2 linked regions of the Homo sapiens genome follow. The protein of the gene in region 1 purifies or fractionates together with the protein of each later gene. This does not show direct contact. Each region holds a gene or a part of one and is shown on either strand. Other genes may lie near its edges.

Region 1 (5,278 bases):
GGGGGCCAGAGAGCCCATCTGGGGCAAGCTGTCGCTCCCTGGGGCATGTGGGCCCAGGTCATGTTTTCAAGAGTAGCCAGAAGTCTGGATTCTTATGCAAAGCCTGTTTTGTTGTTTGTTTGTTTGTTTGTTTGAAGTTTGGCAGCAGATTTAACATTTTTAAAGTACTGTGCAGGCCAAACAAAACACGCCTGTTGACTGGTTGTTTGCCATCCTAAATATAAAGTGGGGCCCATGTGTGGTGGCTCACACCTGTAATCCCAGCATTTTGGGAGGCCAAGGCAGGAAGATCACTTGAGCCCAGGAGGTCGAGGCTGCAGTGAGCAGTGATCGCACCACCGCACTCCAGCCTGGGCAACAGAGGGAGACCTTATCTCAAAAAAATAACAAATAGGCTGGGCACAGTGGCTTATACCTGTAATTCCAGCACTTTGGGAGGCCAAGGCGGGTGGGTCACCTGAGGTCAAGAGTTTGATGTCAGCCTGGCCAACATGGTGAAACCCGTCTCTACTAAAAATACAAAAATTAGCCGGGCGTGGTGGCATGTGCTTGTAGTCCCAGCTACTCAGGAGGCTGAGGCAGGAGAATCGCTTGAACCCGGGAGGCGGAGGTTGCAGTGAGCCGAGATTGTGCCACTGCACTCCAGCCTGGGCCACAGAGCAGGAGTCCGTCTCAAAAAAATAAAAAAAATAAAAAAATAAGAAAGTGATGAGTATAGCTTAATACCCTCATTGGGGAAGAGGAGCAACGCCCTTTTTTGGGGAGGGGTATGTGTTCTGTGGTGATGGTTTTGGGGGGCAATTGTGGGAAACCTCAGCTGCTCCGCTGAACCCGTGTGCCCACCCAGTGTGTCTGTGGCTGTGAAATCCCATGTCCTCCTGGGTGCTCACTTGGTGCCTTAAACTTGAGCTCCATGGCCCCTCCGGGTGGCTGCTTAGCTGAGCATAGGTCCAGCTCAGAGGTAGAATTCTTAATGTTCTTGCCTCTGTCCCAGAGTCCCCTCAATGTCCACACCTAGAAATACAGTTTCTCATCACTGGGGTAACTTGAGAACTCGGTGAAGAGGTTGCCAGTTGGGGCAAAGAGAGGCACGAAAGCCTGGCTGCATTCAGCTTGTAGCCTGCGGTGGCCTCGAGCCTCGCTGGGAAGCAGCTGCAAACTTGCATCTTGGCTGATTTGCGGCCGCAAAGCCCAGATCTCTGGCACACTTTCTGCCCTGAAAGGTGTCCTGTGTGTTACAAGTCAATTACTTTTTTTTTTTTTTCCCAAACACAATCAAACCTTGAATGGGTTGATTTACTGGGAAGCTGGTCCAGGGCTCATGAGTAATGAATGGCTTTGGCCAATCTGCATGGAGTCCTGGCAATTTGTCATTCTTCCTCCAGCTTCTGTTACCCTGGCGCTCCTTTAGAATGATTCTTGGTTTTCATGGCCAACAGAATAGCAGGAGGTGGTGTCTGGGGTCCGAGCCCAAATCTAATTCTCTTCTGCCACTTCCTGTCTGTGAGACCCCAAGCTAGTGGTATAACCTCTCTGGGCATCCTGTTTCTGCATCTGTAAAAAGGGTGACAATCGTCCCCCTCTTGTAGCCTGTTGGGAATCCCAGGGAGAGAGGGTGTGTAAGTAGAGTGCTTGGCGTGGAGCCTGGCATGTAATAGCCTGGGCACACAGTGGCTATTGTGATGGTTGCTCTAACAACTGAGGTTCTTCCCAGGAGCACTCGGTCTCTTCTGGACACCTTCTGATTGCTCAGAATTGAGGAGGGGAAAGGTGGGCATTGTGGTTTGTCTGCTCTGCCCACAGGAGGCAGGAGACGGGCCAGTGGACTTAGACACTCGTCTTTCCTGCATCGTTTCTGGGTGAAAAGGTGCAAGGAGGAGGGAGCAGAGAGGCTGGTCTCAACAGCTGTGCTGGGTGAAGGGTTCGAGTGCTGGCTCTGGGAGAATGAGTTCACCTTCACCGCCCTGTGCCTCGGTTTCTTTATCTGTCAAATGGGGAAGTTGCCATTTCCTGCCGGATGAGCCGGCACAGTCCTTGGTACATAGAAGGCGCTAGGAATGGCCACTGGTATAATAAGAAAAGCCGGGCCGTAGCGTCCTCTGATGGAACACGTGGGACCCGAGCGGGCAGGGTTTTTGGGGGTGAGGTGTCTGTGGTTTCGGCTGGCTGGGTTTGAGTATGCTCCGTCATCCCGCAACCCCCGTGGTGACAGGGTGGGAGTCCTGTAACCTGTCACACCAGCATGTGAGGGCCACATGCCCCACGAGGGGGTGATCTAAGGCTGAGTTTGGGCAGAGAGGCCAAAAAAAGGTGCCAGGCAGCTCACGGACAGAGGTGCTCGTGCCACACAGAATTCTCAGTTCTGGGAATTTTTGTCACCAAAATTGCTGAGGACTCGGGCAGCTACGTCGCCTGTACCAGGGGTGCGCCTGCCCCAACAGTGCCTGCTGGGCCCCTTAAATCCGCCAGCCTCCTAGCTGAGCCATCAGTGGCTCCTTGGTGGCCTCGCAGGTCTCCTGATCTGGCAGAGTCTTGATTTAGGAGCCTCGGTTCCAACCCCAGCCCTGCTTCTGGGAGGCTCTCCTGAGCCTCAGTCCCCTCAGGGGTGTGGCTGCTGGGTCTTCGTGGCGGTAAGGGACAAGTCGGAGTGCAGGGGGTCAAGGACAGGAGGTGGCTGGCTGTAGCAATAATCGGAAAAATGACAGTGGCTCGGAGCAGAGTGGTGGTGGTGGAGGAGAGGGTGGGCATTGTTATCTCGAATGAAAACCAGTCCTGTTTGCTTCTGTGGCTTGTAAGTTTCTCCTCATCCATAAACCTGCCTCTCACAGTGGGGGGTCTGGACTCCGTCCTTCAGGCGTTTGTAATGCAGCTGGGGTGACCTTGCAGACAGGGTCACTAGGAGCCCTGAATCAGGGGTGCAGTTCCCCTCCCACCTGGCTGCACCCACACATTCAGGCTGTGTAACCTCCTTTCGGGCCGAGGTCACCACTCCCTGGCTCTCCTTGGCCGCCACGAAGGGCATTCTTCCGGCAGAGTGTGGGCGGCTCCCCGGCTTGCCTGCTCATGCCTCCCCTGACCTCAGACGCATCGCCCAGAGGGCAGGAGGAGCCCCGGGGTGTCCTTGGTGACGACTCCACCCCCCATGAGAGGAATCGGCCTGCTGGCCTGAAGCCCTCTCTGCTGCCCAGACAGGCGCGGGTGGCCCAGTCCACTGGCTGCGTGGCATTGGCAGTGACACAGGAGGAACCTGGGCCCGACTCGTGCCACCCATAGGAGTCCTTGTAATGGCAGCCCCACCCTCAGCCTTTTTGGCGACAGCCTGGAGAGGGCAACCACCCTATGTGGTGTAACGGGTGGAGAAACCAGGCTTAGATGGGTGATGTGGCCTGCCCAGGGCCTCCCGCTAGTGAGGGTGGAGCTGGGATTCCAACCCTCATCTGTGTGATCTGGAGCTTGCTCTCAGCCCCAAGGGAGTGTGGCCTGTGTCCCCCAGGGATGAAGAGTCCCCGGTAACAGGCTCTTCCTCATCCTCCTCAGGGAGAAGAAATGGGTGACCGTTGGTGACACATCCCTACGAATCTACAAATGGGTCCCTGTGACGGAGCCCAAGGTTGATGACGTGAGTATGGAGGGCTGGTCCCCTGGGGTGGGCCACCCATTCGTGCTCCTCCCACCATGGGGAGGGAGATTGTCCACTGCTACCCACCGTGCTGGGGCTCTGGGACCAAGAGCCCCTGGGAGTAGAAGGACCCAGATTAGACCTGGGGAGGCTGCTGTACCAGTCCCCACCCCTCCCACTCCAGCCCCAGAGTCTGGCCCTCAGAGCGGTGGACGGGGGGATCCCGCAAGCTGTGTCTTCTTCTTCTTCTTCTTCTTCTTTTTGATACAGAGTCTCACTCTGCCGCCCAGGCTGGAGTGCAGTGGTGTGATCTTGGCTCACTGCATCCTCTGCCTCGTGAGTTCAAGCGATTCTCCAGCCTCAGCCTCCCGAGTAGCTGGGATTACAGGTGCACACCACCACACCCAGCCAATTTTTTCGTATTTTTAGTAGAGACGCAGTTTCACCGTGTTGGCCAGGCTCGTCTTGAACTCCTGACCTCGGGTGATCCACCTGCCTGGGCCTCCCAAAGTGCTGGAGTTAAGGCGTGAACCAGTGCGCCCGGCCTGCAAGTTGTGTCTTCTGGGCCGAGCGCCCCCCCCAGGGCTTGGCACTGTGTTTTGGGGCAGGTGTGGTGGTGCCCACAGTTAGGCACGTTCTCCCCACCTTTGTGGTTCTGTTCCTGAGCCTCTGACCATCTGCCAGGCCCTGGGCTGATGCCTCACATGTGGCATCTCCGTTATTTTTCCTACTCAGCCTGTGGAGTTGATCTTTTTAACCTCTCCTCTGTACAAGTGAGGGCACAGGCTCAGAGAGGTGAAGCCACTTCACATGGCTCACCTCAGAGCTGTGAATGGAGCTCAGGTCTGTCTGACTCCAAAGCGCAGGTTCTCTCTGCGCTTGGAGAGGCTTCTGGTGAGTGGAGCTGCTGGTGACAGGGGTCCCCGGTGCTAGGAAAGCCTGGTGTAGGGATGCGGGGCTCCAGGAGGGCTCCAGGAGGGGTGGCGCCATCCCGACTTCCACCACTAGAGGGAATGCGAGGCGCTGTCCTGTGATGGCTGGCAACTGCCCCGAGCAGACAGTGCTCTCCCAACTTCGTGGTTCCCAGGCCAGTTACCTCCAGAGACCCCTCTCATTTCCATCCCAAATCAAGAACAGTCTGCCCCATAGGCCTTTGCCTGGGCCATTCCCCCCTGCCTGGACTGCCTTCCGTATTTACTCAAACTCAGTCCTTCTACCTGGGAAGATGGCGCAGACTAACCCACATGGCTGCGGCCACTCCTGGGAGTGACGTAAAGTCATGATTGGTAGGTTTGGGGTGGGGGAAGCATGTGGGGGTCCAGCTTCCTCCAAAAAGACAGGGGCTAAGTTTCTCGCCCCCATCTTCAGTTATCTGCCCGGCAAGTCTTGGGTCTCTGGGCAGGGCTGTGGCTCCATTCTTCACCCCGTGATCACATGCTCACCCCTGAACTTGGGCCTTTGTTGTCCCTTCTGGTTCTAGCCTGGGCTCCCGGAATCACCAGGGCTGCTTTCCCCAAAGGGACTGAGCCTTGGTCTCTCTCCGCATCTCCCAGGGAAGAGCAGGGCAAGCTCCTCGAAGGCAGTTCCTGGCTCCGGCCCATGTCTGTGCCTTGCCCGCCATTAGGTGTAGAAATGCTGGTTGCATTTGAGAAGATGTGG
Region 2 (5,278 bases), on another chromosome or scaffold:
GTCTTCCAGTGACAGTCACTCAATCATCACAGCAACAGGATGAAATTCAGCTTAAAAGAAAAAAAAAAAAGCACTTCCTACTAAATAAAATAATTATTTGCATCTTTCCTTGAACCAACCCCAACATTTAAAGAAACAGTACTGTAAAACTCCAACCTCCTGTGCTCAGTTTGTTTTGTTTTTTCTTTGTAAATGGGAAATAAGTGAAAGTTTTACCATTTCTTTCTTATTAATCTTCACTATTAAGAGTCTTTAAGTTGTTACTGAGTGAATGCTCATTCTGGCTATTTTGTTAAACCTAACCTTCAACTGGTTATGTTTTTCTCTCCTTTCTTGTCTCTCTCTAAAATTTTCATATTAAACAATAAAGCTTCTGAAACTACTCATTGTAAATATTTTCAAGCTGTTCAAGTAAAGATTTCATTATCTATGGGGCAGATCTTGCTATTGAATCTTATTCCACTCCATAAATTATATTTTATTGGTTTGGAAGTATATATGTTTTAAGTAGTTGTGAACGTGTTTTTTCACCCAGGAAGCTCTGGCCCAGCTTGGTCAGCATGTAAAATAATTTTCCAACCCACAAAACAGATTTAGCAGTAACTGTTCAGGTCTTGCTGAAATGGCTTCCTTGTTGGTTTTTTGGGAGGGGGGGTTTTGTTTGTTTTTAAAAAAACACTGTTAGCATGACCAAATTCTACAAAATTAGTTCTTTAATATTAATCCTTCCTTCCATACCCCCACCACCTAAATTTCAGGCTAGTCTACTTTTCACTACTAATTAGGTCCTTGTGTAACTTAGTTTTCTCCGCTAAAAAACTACTCATATTTACTAACCCTCAGATACATATTTTAGTTACATTTATCAACAATTTGTTTTTCTTTAGTGAGATACTTTAGAAAAGAGATACCGTACCATATGTTCTCATTTCAATTTATGTCATATACAGGCTCTAAAGTTAATTCCAGTAGACTATAAAGTCCTATGCTTGCTTTGTTTTCTTTCTTAAATCGAAGAACATTTGTTATGACCATCTCCATGGCATTCTGCTAGTGGCTATACAGGTGGAGCTGAACAATTGAGATTCTGACCTCAAAGAGCTAACCATGTACTTCAGCTTTGGAAATGGTATAATTATAATGTTTTGCTTTCCATTTTTTTTTTTTTAGTTCCCTTATTTTTATAACATTATTGCCTCATAATGTTGAACAGTGATTCTTATTATTTATGCTACCTTTGAAGGTGTCATTTTGACAAAAATACTGCCTCTGACAATGCATCATCTTGACAAACTTGATTTTTTGAGATTAAAATATTTCAAAAACCAAGTGTCCCCTTATAATTTATTATGCATAAAAAGGAATTTTTTTTGCCTTTCTTTAGTTATATTTTTGTGTCATTATAGTTTCACATTAACACACAAAATATAGAAGACTAGGGATTAAAACATCCAACAGAATGGATACTAAATGAATTATTCTTCTTCCTTTTTTCTTTCCATTACTTCTACCACCACCACCACCATCACCACCACTACCAACACTATCACCACTATCACCTCTGCCACCCAAATGTACCGCTGCAAGTAATATACACTTCTTTCATGCCTTTGATACTTCAACTGTGTTTTGCCTACTTAAATATGCTTTATTTGCGTCTTTTCTAACTGTATAGACTAGAAATTGATCAGCCGTTCTCTTTTCTCCTAAAGAGTATCAAATGTAATATCTGCTTAAATGTCTTTCTTTTGGGTACTAAGGATATGTGCAGCGGCATGTTTTAGGAAATTGTGTTTATTTTGTAACAGCTACAGCTTAGTTGGAATGTGTTAAGTGTATTTTACATTATACAATTAAGGACCGATATTGTTAATTGCATGTAAAAATGAAATTGTCACATATTTTGATTGAATTTTACAAGGTAAAATACCCTAATTTTGGTCTCTCTCTACTATATTCTTTCTATGCATTATGCCTTGGTTCTCATGAACATTGAGTGTCATTGTATTAGCCCCAAGGCTACTGCTATATAAGAGCCCATTTGTGATTACATCAACACATAATTCACAAAAACCAAGGGTTCTGTTGCTGAAATGAGCAGTTGTATTTTGAAAGGGTGAGAGCTATCAGGAAACTAGATGAAAAAAGAAGTCTATAAACTAGAAAAGTAGTTCACATTGAGACAAAATGCAGAAATGTTTTCATGATTGACCAGTGGAAGATGGATCAAAGAAGAAATGGAAGAGAAATCCTATAAAAGAATGACTGGGTTAAAAAGATCAGATAGTACCCCAGAATGAAATCCATGCATTTCTTACAAGTCTTTGTTTTAAATCATGTATGTGACATCCATCAAATCCAACATATGTTCTTTTCAATTGACAAATCCTGGCTTCCCGATTTGAGTCTCTACTCATTTCTCACATTATATAAAATGATTTAAAACTGTCGTTGAAATCAGATCCATTTCTTTTTTTTGTTTTTAGTAGATAAATACATTGGTGGCATCCACATGTCAAATAAATTGTATTTTGTTTTGCATGTAGTGTTTTCAGAGTTCTAGTTGATCACACTTCAAGCCTTCCTATTTCAGTCTTCATATATTGCTAAGTTGTTTTATCCTATTGTTGACCATAAAGTAATCCTGAATGTTTTAAACACTTCAGTGTGTTGCTTACCTCAAAAAACAAAACACACATTCACAGTCACACAAACACCCCCAGCCCCTGCAAAAAAGAAAGAGAAAAACAACCAAAAGACACTGCAGACAGGTTTCTCAATGAAAGAAAAATATTTAATTTCCTCAGTGGAAAAAAAGAACAATTACAACACATCATTGCTTGTTTAAATTCAGGTTGCTTTTGCATGCCATATGCAGATCATTTTTCATTTCTGTGTTTTCCTCGTTTGAGCTCATTTCTCATTCGTGTTTTTGTCTCATTTGTTTCCATCAGCAAATGCCCAGCACACCAGGGTTTGTGGGATACAATCCATACAGTCATCTCGCCTACAACAACTACAGGCTGGGAGGGAACCCGGGCACCAACAGCCGGGTCACGGTAGGAGAATCAACTATTACAGCATCCGGCAAACAACTGGAATTGACCAGAAATGCCTTCAGAATTAGGTCTTTTTGAATCATAAGCACAGCCATTTAAAAAAAATTTTTTAACCTAGCTTTTTGAGTATTTTCAACATTCGTTGTAGCATCTCACACTGAAAAAATAAATAGTGAGATCTGGAATGTATATAGAAGAAAAGAAAAATCCATTCTGTTTGGTGGTTGGTAGGGTTAAAGCCTTGAGCACTTGATGCTTATACTGTATGTAAACAAACAGAATTTCTTAAGGTAAAAATATCCTTTTTGACATAAAGAGTATTTTTCATTTTTATAAGGTGATTGGCATTAGTCTCAAGGATTGAGTTTCTAGTAGAGGCTGGTCTTTCAGACCTGGCTTTTTCAGGGCTGGAAAGCTTTTGGCTGGTACACCAGTTTGAATCGCTACCCATAGTTATTTGTCTTTTGGATTTAGTAGTTGACCTTCTAACTAAGACTCATTTCTCTACAGTGAAAAAGAGAAAAACGTTTTAATGTCACCTCAAAGAAATGCAGAGTGAAGGTTGAATGAAATTAATTTGAAGTATCAGACTAGATATGTACAACGAGAAGTGCATTTCTAATCCTTAGTATAAGAGATAGGATTTCTGAAACTTAGCATGTTTCATTTAAGTGATCAGCCTAAGATATCAAAATTGGATGATACACTTCAAATCTTTTAGTTTAGAATCATCTTAAATTTCATTCAAAAAAGTTTAAGCACCAAAAAATGCCAATAATTATAAAAATGACTTACTAAAGATAAAAAATCCAAAAGTCAAATACTACATTGGAATGTAGTGTTGGTGAGAATTTATACAACCCAGAATGGCTGTAAAGTTTTTAATACCTGGTTTTTGTTTGCTGTATTCATAAATAACAAGTGCCTTCTATTAATGTAACTTCAAAAAAGCCCTCTCACCCTGTAGTCAAGCTGGAACTGAAAGCTTGTAGCTATCAAATGAATGTCTATCTTGATAAGCATATTGCTTAGCTTGATAGGTTTTGTTTGTCTAAATTTTTCATTGTTTCTGCATAATATGTACTTCATAAGCATATCAAGTTTTATGTGCCATGCATATTTCATGGTATCTGAAAAAGAATTCTGACAAAGTGTGTGTATGTATGCATTTCACAATGCATACAATTTTTATGTGCATCAATACATGTTTTTCCCTGGCCTAAACATGTTGTTTCACAAGTGTAATGGATGGCAAGGTTTTCAAATGATAAAGAACATTTCAGTTTAAACAATGAACGGAATCAATCATGGATCTTAATGTTAATGCAGCAATTTTTTCACGGGCAGTAAACAAGAATGATTGCATTTAATAGCTCTATACAGTCACCTCTTGATTATCTATGTTAATGGAATAGAAATGATAACTATAATATTACAGTAATTTGTCTTTTGGTTTTGTGTAAGTATTTTGCTCTTAACTTGGATGTAGCTGTGGGGGATTCTCAGTTAAAAAAGTGAGATTGTTCGATGGAGACTAGGAAGAGAAAGTGTACTCCCTATCTGAAGTCACTCATCTGTTTCTTCCCATTCCTTCTTGGCGAATGTTAAGAACTGAACATTTGGCGTGGACACTAGCTACATAGTAGATTAATTATAGAGAGTTGTTGGACATGGAAAATTTGGTGTTTTGGTCCTTTGTGGACATTTACTTTGTATTATTGTCCTCTTAACACCAAATTGAAGTATAATCAAACTGCTATATGAAGAAGGGCCTAGAAAATGTGGAGGTTTTACACTACTTGCCCTGCTTTCTATATCTAGTTTAAGCTGTTAGGACTCAATGGCTCTGATTTTGACCATAATAAAAGCATTTTGATTTTACTATGACCCTAGTTATGCATTACTTTTGGGGGTGAGGGGAAGCTCCTGTATGGTATTGTTGTGCGCAGATTGCATTAGTGGTTTTCAAGGAACGAATCTGTGAAGCCCTGTCCAGTAGCTTGTGGTAGGCTGTAGAGAACATTGGGTTTCCCTGATGACTCCAGTATACTTGGGTAGTTCTCAGACAGTAAATACTTTGTATAGCATGTCGAGACCTTTTGGAGTGCTTATGATAGCTACAAGATGGAATTCACTCCTAGTCAGTTCTTCATTCAGATGATGATTAACATTCTCTTAAGTACAGGTGTGAAAACACATTGAGACAAAAATGTCTTTAA

Evidence for each region. Proteins that work in one complex are often made in the same cells at the same time.
Region 2: the proteins of BCL7A (region 1) and SMARCE1 purify together in Homo sapiens (affinity purification with mass spectrometry; 5 studies listed by BioGRID and IntAct, with this or other methods). This does not show direct contact.

Annotation. Positions count from the first base shown.
Region 1 is NC_000012.12:122,027,163-122,032,440, forward strand, and holds part of BCL7A (B-cell CLL/lymphoma 7 protein family member A), read left to right. Parts: intron 1-3,537; coding exon 3,538-3,619; intron 3,620-5,278.
Region 2 is NC_000017.11:40,640,236-40,645,513, reverse strand, and holds part of SMARCE1 (SWI/SNF-related matrix-associated actin-dependent regulator of chromatin subfamily E member 1), read left to right. Parts: intron 1-2,954; coding exon 2,955-3,059; intron 3,060-5,278. UniProt on the Homo sapiens protein: Involved in transcriptional activation and repression of select genes by chromatin remodeling (alteration of DNA-nucleosome topology).